Linked DNA regions of Homo sapiens. The protein of the gene in region 2 purifies or fractionates together with the protein of the main gene of each other region. This does not show direct contact. Each region holds a gene or a part of one and is shown on either strand. Other genes may lie near its edges. The genes, in order: UBE2V2 and MSRB2.

Region 1 (3,823 bases), on a different chromosome or scaffold from region 2:
TATCTTACATATATTATGGTGTGTGTACGTATAATATATAACTCTATACATTATGTTATATAAAACCAAAATGACTATATTAACTTACCATCCCACTGGAATTATTTATTCCGTTCATATTAATTTTTGTTACAAATCTAACTGACGGAGGAGCTTCTGGGTATTTAGGTCCACATTCTACTTTCAGGCTATATATTCTGTTTTCATAATTTGTCTGGAAGGCAAAAAACAAAAAGATAATCAAAATAACAATACCTAAAATATTAATGTCTAAGTGCTAAAAAAAAAAAAGGGAAAGTACAATATGAATGTACGTAAGACAGTGTTTATGATTAAGAATTTATTTTTCTACATTCAAATTTATTTCACCTATATGGTGAGAAAAAATGCAATAAGCATACTTAAAAATTGAGATTTTACAAAATTAATTCCATGAGATTTTACAAAATTAATTCTACAAAGTATTATCAATATGATCCCAAGTTGCTTTTGTGATAAAAATGATGCCTGTAACAAATTAGAACGAAGAAGGAAAAACGAAAAAGCAAACCACTTAAATTTAGATTTTGCTAAAAAGTTTACATTGTAGAGGGAGGGGCTACTTGAGACTTGTGTTAAACATATATGAAGGTTTCTGTTTTACAGAACAGTTCTGCTTATTCCTATTGTCCCAGAATTGACTATTAACAGTGCCTCCTTTCATTCTCAAAAGGGTCTTGTTGGATAACAAATTATATGATTATCCTACTAAATATGGCAATCAATAACTTCTAGCAAAAGAGAAAACCCCATATTATACTATTTTGCAGCAATAAAACATAATTATTTTATGTCCCCTGTTAGTTATACTTACGTTGCCACTTCATTAATTTTGAGGTTCATTAAATCCCATTATCTGAATTCAGAGATACAATGGCAAACTTTATGTTTACACATCATTTTCAAATAGGTATCAAACTTAAAGCTTCTAGATTATCCAGGGCTTATTTTCATGCCTATAAATTAACTCTTCTTTCTGCTATGGCTTTTGTTCACTCTGTTAACTTATTAGTGTACCATTAAAACAGCAAAGTAAAAAATAAATGAATCCTCACCTTGACTCAAGAGATTAAAAAGAAAAAAAAATTGTTTTAAAGAGAATTATAATTATTGAAACTTTAAATTTTCTAAATTATAATTAAAATAACATAAAAATATATACATAAATAAATGAAAGTGAAAAATTTAATATCTGCTGGCTGCTGTATAAGACCAGAGAGGGAGGAAGCTAACCAACCATCTACAGATCTCACCTACTCAAACTGATCCCATCCCCATAAACAAGAGCTATCCAAATGGAGGTCAGATTTGCAGTATTAAACTACTCTAATGTAAAACCTATGCAACAATGTTATATGTATGTTATTAAATATTTCAATACTTTAAGAAAAAAAGAGCTATATAAAACTCATCTGAGATTAATAGCAAGCAAATATTAATAATATCCCCAGCACTTTCAATATATAAAAATGACTAAAATCAGATAGATCTCATGATTATCTTGGCTGTGATTCTCCAATCTGGATGCATATCAGACTCCCCTATGATACAGCAATTCTATTCCTAGGCATTTACCCAAGCGAAATGGAAACAAACACATGTTCACAAAAAGACTTCTACAAGAATGCCCATAGCAGCTTTATTTGTAAAAGCAAGAAAGTAGATTAAATCCAAATGTCCATAAAAAGAAGTGATAAACACATTGTGGTATATCCATACAGTAAAATACTATTCAACAATAAAAAGAAACACACTCCTACTACATGAGATAACACAACTGAATTGCTCAGACTTCATGCTGAGTAAAGAACCGTAAGTGTACACACTACATGACCCTACTTACCAAAGCTCTACAACACGCAAATCTCTCAGGTGTGGGAAAGCGCAAAGGGAGCTTTCTGGAATGACAGGAATGTTCTGTATCTCAGTAGGGGTAACAAGCTACATTTGTCAAACTCATGGCACATCTGTGCATTTCACTACATGTAAATTCTACCTCAATTCCTTTTGTTTAAAAAAAAAAAAAAAAAAACCCAAAGCTCTTTTCTGAAAGATTTTATGTAAACAAAAAAAAATTTAATCCCAAAGCTAGCCTATTAATCTAATCCAATTCTTACAGTAAATATCACCCTAACTTCTGACACCTTTGATTTTATCCCCTCTAAATTTTAAATTAACAGGCTGGGTGTGGTGGCTCATGCCTGTAATCCCAGCCCTTTGGGAGGCCAAAGGCGGGCAGACTGCCTGAGGTCAGGAGTTCGAGACCAGCCTGGCCAACATGGTGAAACCCCGTCTCTATTAAAAATACAAAAATTGGTAGCACACGCCTGTAATCCCAGCTAGTCGGGAGGCTGAGGCAGGAGAATCACCTGAACTCGGGAGGTGGCAACTGCAGTGAGCTGAGATCACGCCACTGCACTCCAGCCTGGGTGGCAAAGCAAGACTGTCTCAAAAAAAAAAAAAATTTTAATTAACAGTCAAGTTTTTCTGTTATCTAATAAAAAGCAAGAGCAAAAAAAAGAGGAGAAAAACAAACTAATATTTACTAAGTCAAGTACTCAGGTATTCTCCTATTATCTAATCATTATTTCACTTAATTCTCACACTGTTTCTATTTTAAAGATGGGGACAGTACCTTCATTAAATATGAGAAAACTTGAAAAAGTACTAAACTCTAGTGACAACAAATATTGCTTCAGAAAACTGAACACAAAAACATAGAAAAACAAAACTGCTAATCATATAAATCCAAATAAATACTAGAACAACATAAAAAATGAGGGATCTGGCTGGACATGGTGGCTCACACCTGTAATCCTAACACTTTGGGAGGCCGAAGGGAGTGGATCACCTGAGGTTGGGAGTTCGAGACCAGCTTGACCAACATGGAGAAACCCCATCTCTACTAAAAATACAAAATTAGCCGGGCATGGTGTCGCATGCCTGTAATCCCAGCTACTCAGGAGCCTGAGGCAGGAGAATCACTTGAACCTGGGAGGCAGAGGTTGCGGTGAGCCCGAGATAGTGTCACTGAACTCCAGCCTGGGCAACAAGAGCAAAGCTCCATCTCAAAAAAAAAAAAAAAGAGGGACCTTAGTCAATAAAGTACAAAAAATAAAAAACAACTGGCCAGGCACAGTGGTTCACGCCTATAATCCTAGCACTTTGGGAGGCCACGGCAGGTGGGCCATTTGAGCCCAGGAGTTTGAGACCCGTCTGGGCAACACAGTGAGACCCCCATCTCTACACACACACACACACAAATTAGCCAGGTATGGTGGTGTACCCCTATAGTCCCAGCTACTCAGAAGGCTAAGGTGGGAGGATTGTTTGAGCCCAGGGGGTCCAGGCTGTGAGGTGTGATCGGGCCACTACACTCCAGCCTGGTTGACAGAGTGAGACTATCTCAAAATAAAATAAAATAAAAATAAAAAACAACGAACCATGTAACATGTTAAAAGTCTTCCTCCTCTCAACCGGGCACGGCGGCTCACGCCTGTAATCCTAGCACTTTGCGAAGGCCGAGGTGGGCGGATCATCTGAGGTCGGGAGTCTGAGACCAGCCTGAGCAACATGGAGAAACCCTGTCCCCACTAAAAATACAAAATTAGGCCAGACGCGGTGGCTCACGCCTGTAATCCCAGCACTTTGGGAGGCCGAGGCGGGTGGATCACAAGGTCAGGAGATCGAGACCATCCCGGCTAACATGGTGAAACCCCATCTCTACTAAAAATACAAAAAATCAGCAGGGCGTGGTGACAGGCCCCTGTAGTCCCACTACTCG
Region 2 (3,823 bases):
TAAATAAGTAAGTGTGAGTGTGTGAGTGTACGTTTGCGCGTGTGTGTCTCAGTGTTGGGGAGAGAGATGGGGAAGAGCACATGAATCTAGAAAGGAACTGCATCTCTATGAGATTTTTCCTAATAGCCCATAATCCCAGTTTAATTGTGAGGAGAAACATCAAACAATCCCAGACTGAGGGACATTCTACAAGGAACCTGACCAGTCCTCCCCAAAACTGTAAAGGTCATGAAAGACAGAGACAGTTTTGACAAATGTACTATGATGATGTCAGAAGATTACCAGGGGGATCCGGATGAGGGGTCTTGAGAACTCTGTACTGTCTTTATAACTTGTCTATAAATCTAAAATTATTCCAAAATAAAAAAGCTTATTTAAAAAACTATCTTCTCCATGGCTACCCGTGTACCATCAAGCACTACTGGAGAAAATCCCCCACCTGGGGAGAGGGTTGTCCTTATAAACTCAAAGTTACTCATCTCACTGGGGTTTCAGTGAACCATGGAACCATCTTTCCCCAGTCAGCTCTCTTCCCATTTCTCTGCAATGAGTGTTTTAAACCTTTTCCACTCTCAGGAATGTAAACTAGTACAACCACTATGGAAAACAGTGTGGAGATTCTTTAAAGAACTAAAAGTAGAATACCATTTAATCCAGCAATCCCACTACTGGGTATCTACCCAGAGGCAAAGAAGTCATTACATGAAAAAGATACCTGCACACACGTTTATAGTAGCACAATTTGCAATTGCAAAAATATGGAGCCAACACAAATGCCCATCAATCAACTAGTGGATAAAGAAATGATGGTATATATATAGACTATGGAATACTACTCAGCCATAAAAAGGAACAAAATAATGGCATTCACAGCAACTTGGATGGAATTGGAGACTATTATTCTAAGTGAAGTAAGTCAGGAATGAAAAACCAAACATCGTATGTTCTCATTCATAAGTGGGAGCTGAGCTATGAGGATGCAAAGGCATAAGAATGATACAATAGACTTTGGGGACTCAGAGAAGAAAGGGTGTGAGGGGGATGAGGAATAAAAGACTACACATTGGGTACCATGTACACTGCTCGGGTGATGAGTACACCAAAATCTGATAAATCACCATTAAAGAAAGAACTTATTCATGTAACAAAACACCTGTTCGCCCAAAAGCTATTGAAATTAAACAAAACAAAACAAAACAAAACAAAAAACCTTTTCCACTCTCCTCAAACCATGGTATCTATCTACTACGTCTCCCCTTCCTCTCAACAGATTTCACTTTTGCAAAATCAAAAGCCACAAACCTTCTGGCTACCAAACCATCACACTTACTAATACCTACATCTACCCTTTTTCCATCTTGTCACAGTGGAACGAGTGACTGCCTCTGATATGGTTTGGCTCTGTGTCCCTACCCAAATCTCATGTGACATTGTAATCCTCAGTGTTGGAGGTGGGGCCTGGTGGGAGGTGATTAAATCATGGGGACATATTTCCCCTTTGGTGCTGTTCTCGTGATAGTGAGTTATCGAGAGATCTGGTTGTTTAAAAGTTCACCTCCCCCTCTCTCTCTTCCTCCTGCTCTGACCATGTAAGATGTGCTTGCTTATGTGCTTGCTTCCTCTTCACCTTACATCATGATTGTAAGTTTCCCGAGGCCTCCCCAGCCATGCTTCCTGTACAGCCTGTGGAACCGTAAGCCAATTAAACCTCTTTCCTTCCTAAATTACCCAGTCTCTGGTATTTCTTTATAGCACTGTGAAAACAAACTAATACAAGCCTCTTCCTGTCTGTTTTTTTGCCACTTCTGTTCAGGATCCTGTCTCTTCTTGGCCACCTCAAATGATTTAAAAAGAGAATGCTTTAGCCAGAGGCACTAAAAAGAGCAAGAACAGGCTTTGCTAGAAAGAGTGTATGTCCTGGGTTCCTCCTCCCAGATCTAAACTCTGGTCCCGTGGGGGAATTTGTGAGACCTAATCTCTGGCTATCATTGACATTTGTCAAGGAAAGGACTAAACGCATCATGATAAAACACCCTCCTCTTAGCTTTGGCAAAGATCTTGCATTATTCCTGTAGATAGGTAAGAGGACCAACTTCAGGTACAAAGGTTGGAATTTACAGTCTGTGAAGCTGGCTTTATCTTCCTGTCTCCTTTCAGGCAGGAAGTGGAATGGGCTTAGAAAAAAACCCTATTGTCTCCTGGAAGCACTGTCCTTAGTGTGACTCAACAGGCAGTACACTATAGTAGCTGACACTGGAAAGTGGGAATTAGAGAAGAGCTAAAAGTCAGTGGGACTCTCATGAATTGAGCTTTAAAACATGTACTTCTTTCGCTTTGAACCTAAGGCTTGAGTTGGTCTGGGTTCCCAGCTCCCTCTCCCACACCTCTATATTTTGTTACACGTATTAGAGAGTGACTATCTGTTCTTCAGACACCACCTTCTCCCTCTGCCCTAATTTTTTTAAGAGACCGAGTCTCACTGTGTTGCCCAGAATGGAGCACAATGGCTATTCATACGCATGATCAAAGTACACTACAGCCTTGAATGCCTGGACTCAAGCGATTTTCCTTCCTCAGCCTCCCAAGTAGCTGAGACTACAGGTGCGTGACACAGTGCCACGCCATAATATTTTCTTTTTAAGTTTAAAATATATAACTAGTATTTAAATTGCTAACCAAAAGAATTAAGCCTTCATCTAAGTACAATATGGAAAGGACATTTTTAATGGTTCTTTTAATCCTTATCAATGTGGACCTTTTACACTATTTTTAATGTGTGCGAAAACTTTAGTGGGTAGGCAATAATGTTTAGACTAGTTCTTGTTCAAGCACCAATTATGCAACATTTAGCTGCAGAATTTGCCAGCCTAGAAGGCTCAGTCAAGGGCAGACAGACTTTGCTTTGATAGCAAAATGATGAACGCTCAGTTGGGTACACCCAGGTCAGGTTATATGTGGGCTGTATCACTTTAAGAGGTTTCTTTGACCTGGATGTTATGAGCTGAATTGTGACACTCCCTGCCCGCCAACTTCCAAATTCATATGTTGAAGTCCTAATCCCCAGTACTTTAAAATGTGACTGCATTTAGAGACAGGGCCTTTAAAGAGGCAATCATGTCAAAATGAGGCCATTAAGAGGGGGCCCTGGTCCAATAAGACTGGTGTCCTCATAAGAGGAAGGGACAGCAGAGAAAAGGCCGCCTGGGGACACAGCAAGAAGGCAGCTATCCCCAAGTTAAGGAAAGAGGTCTCAGGACAAATCTCAGGACAAGTCTTGGCCTTGGACTTCCAGCCTCCAGAACCGTATGAAAATGAATTCCATCGTTTAAGCTGCCCAGCCTGTGATATTTTGTTATGGGATCCCTAGCAAATGAACACACTGGGGCTTTAGAAAACAACCAAAGTTTAAATAAAAATTACAGTATGAGTAAATTCTGAGCAGTTTTATCAAACAGCAATTTAGGCACGTGTAAATTAGATACACGACAAGGTCTCTCACTTGGGAATGAGTCAAGTCTTCTGGCTACCGTGGCTAGAGAGAGGTTTCAACACTGGCTGTGTCCTTTTCTGTGTGTGTGCAGGTATTTTCTGTCCTCTGCACCACGTGCTCATCCTTTGGGGGCTACACATTTTCCAGATTCCCTCTACATTCTCTTGCTATCTTCACTATGAAAACATTTATCGGTTGCTGCTATTGCATGAGATAACTACACAGCTTTACTTTGAATTATGCCTTAATAAACTCAAATTCCTTGGAGTTCCCTTCTCTCTGTGTGCTGTGATTTGCACAGGCCATATATTTTGTTGGTCAGAAGTTCTACGG

Evidence for each region.
Region 1: the proteins of MSRB2 (region 2) and UBE2V2 purify together in Homo sapiens (co-immunoprecipitation; one large-scale study listed by IntAct). This does not show direct contact.

What each region holds. Positions count from the first base shown.
Region 1 is NC_000008.11:48,046,244-48,050,066, reverse strand, and holds part of UBE2V2 (ubiquitin-conjugating enzyme E2 variant 2), read right to left. Parts: intron 215-3,823; coding exon 89-214; intron 1-88. UniProt on the Homo sapiens protein: Has no ubiquitin ligase activity on its own. The UBE2V2/UBE2N heterodimer catalyzes the synthesis of non-canonical poly-ubiquitin chains that are linked through 'Lys-63'. This type of poly-ubiquitination does not lead to protein degradation by the proteasome.
Region 2 is NC_000010.11:23,098,372-23,102,194, reverse strand, and holds part of MSRB2 (methionine-R-sulfoxide reductase B2, mitochondrial precursor), read right to left. Parts: intron 1-3,823. UniProt on the Homo sapiens protein: Methionine-sulfoxide reductase that specifically reduces methionine (R)-sulfoxide back to methionine.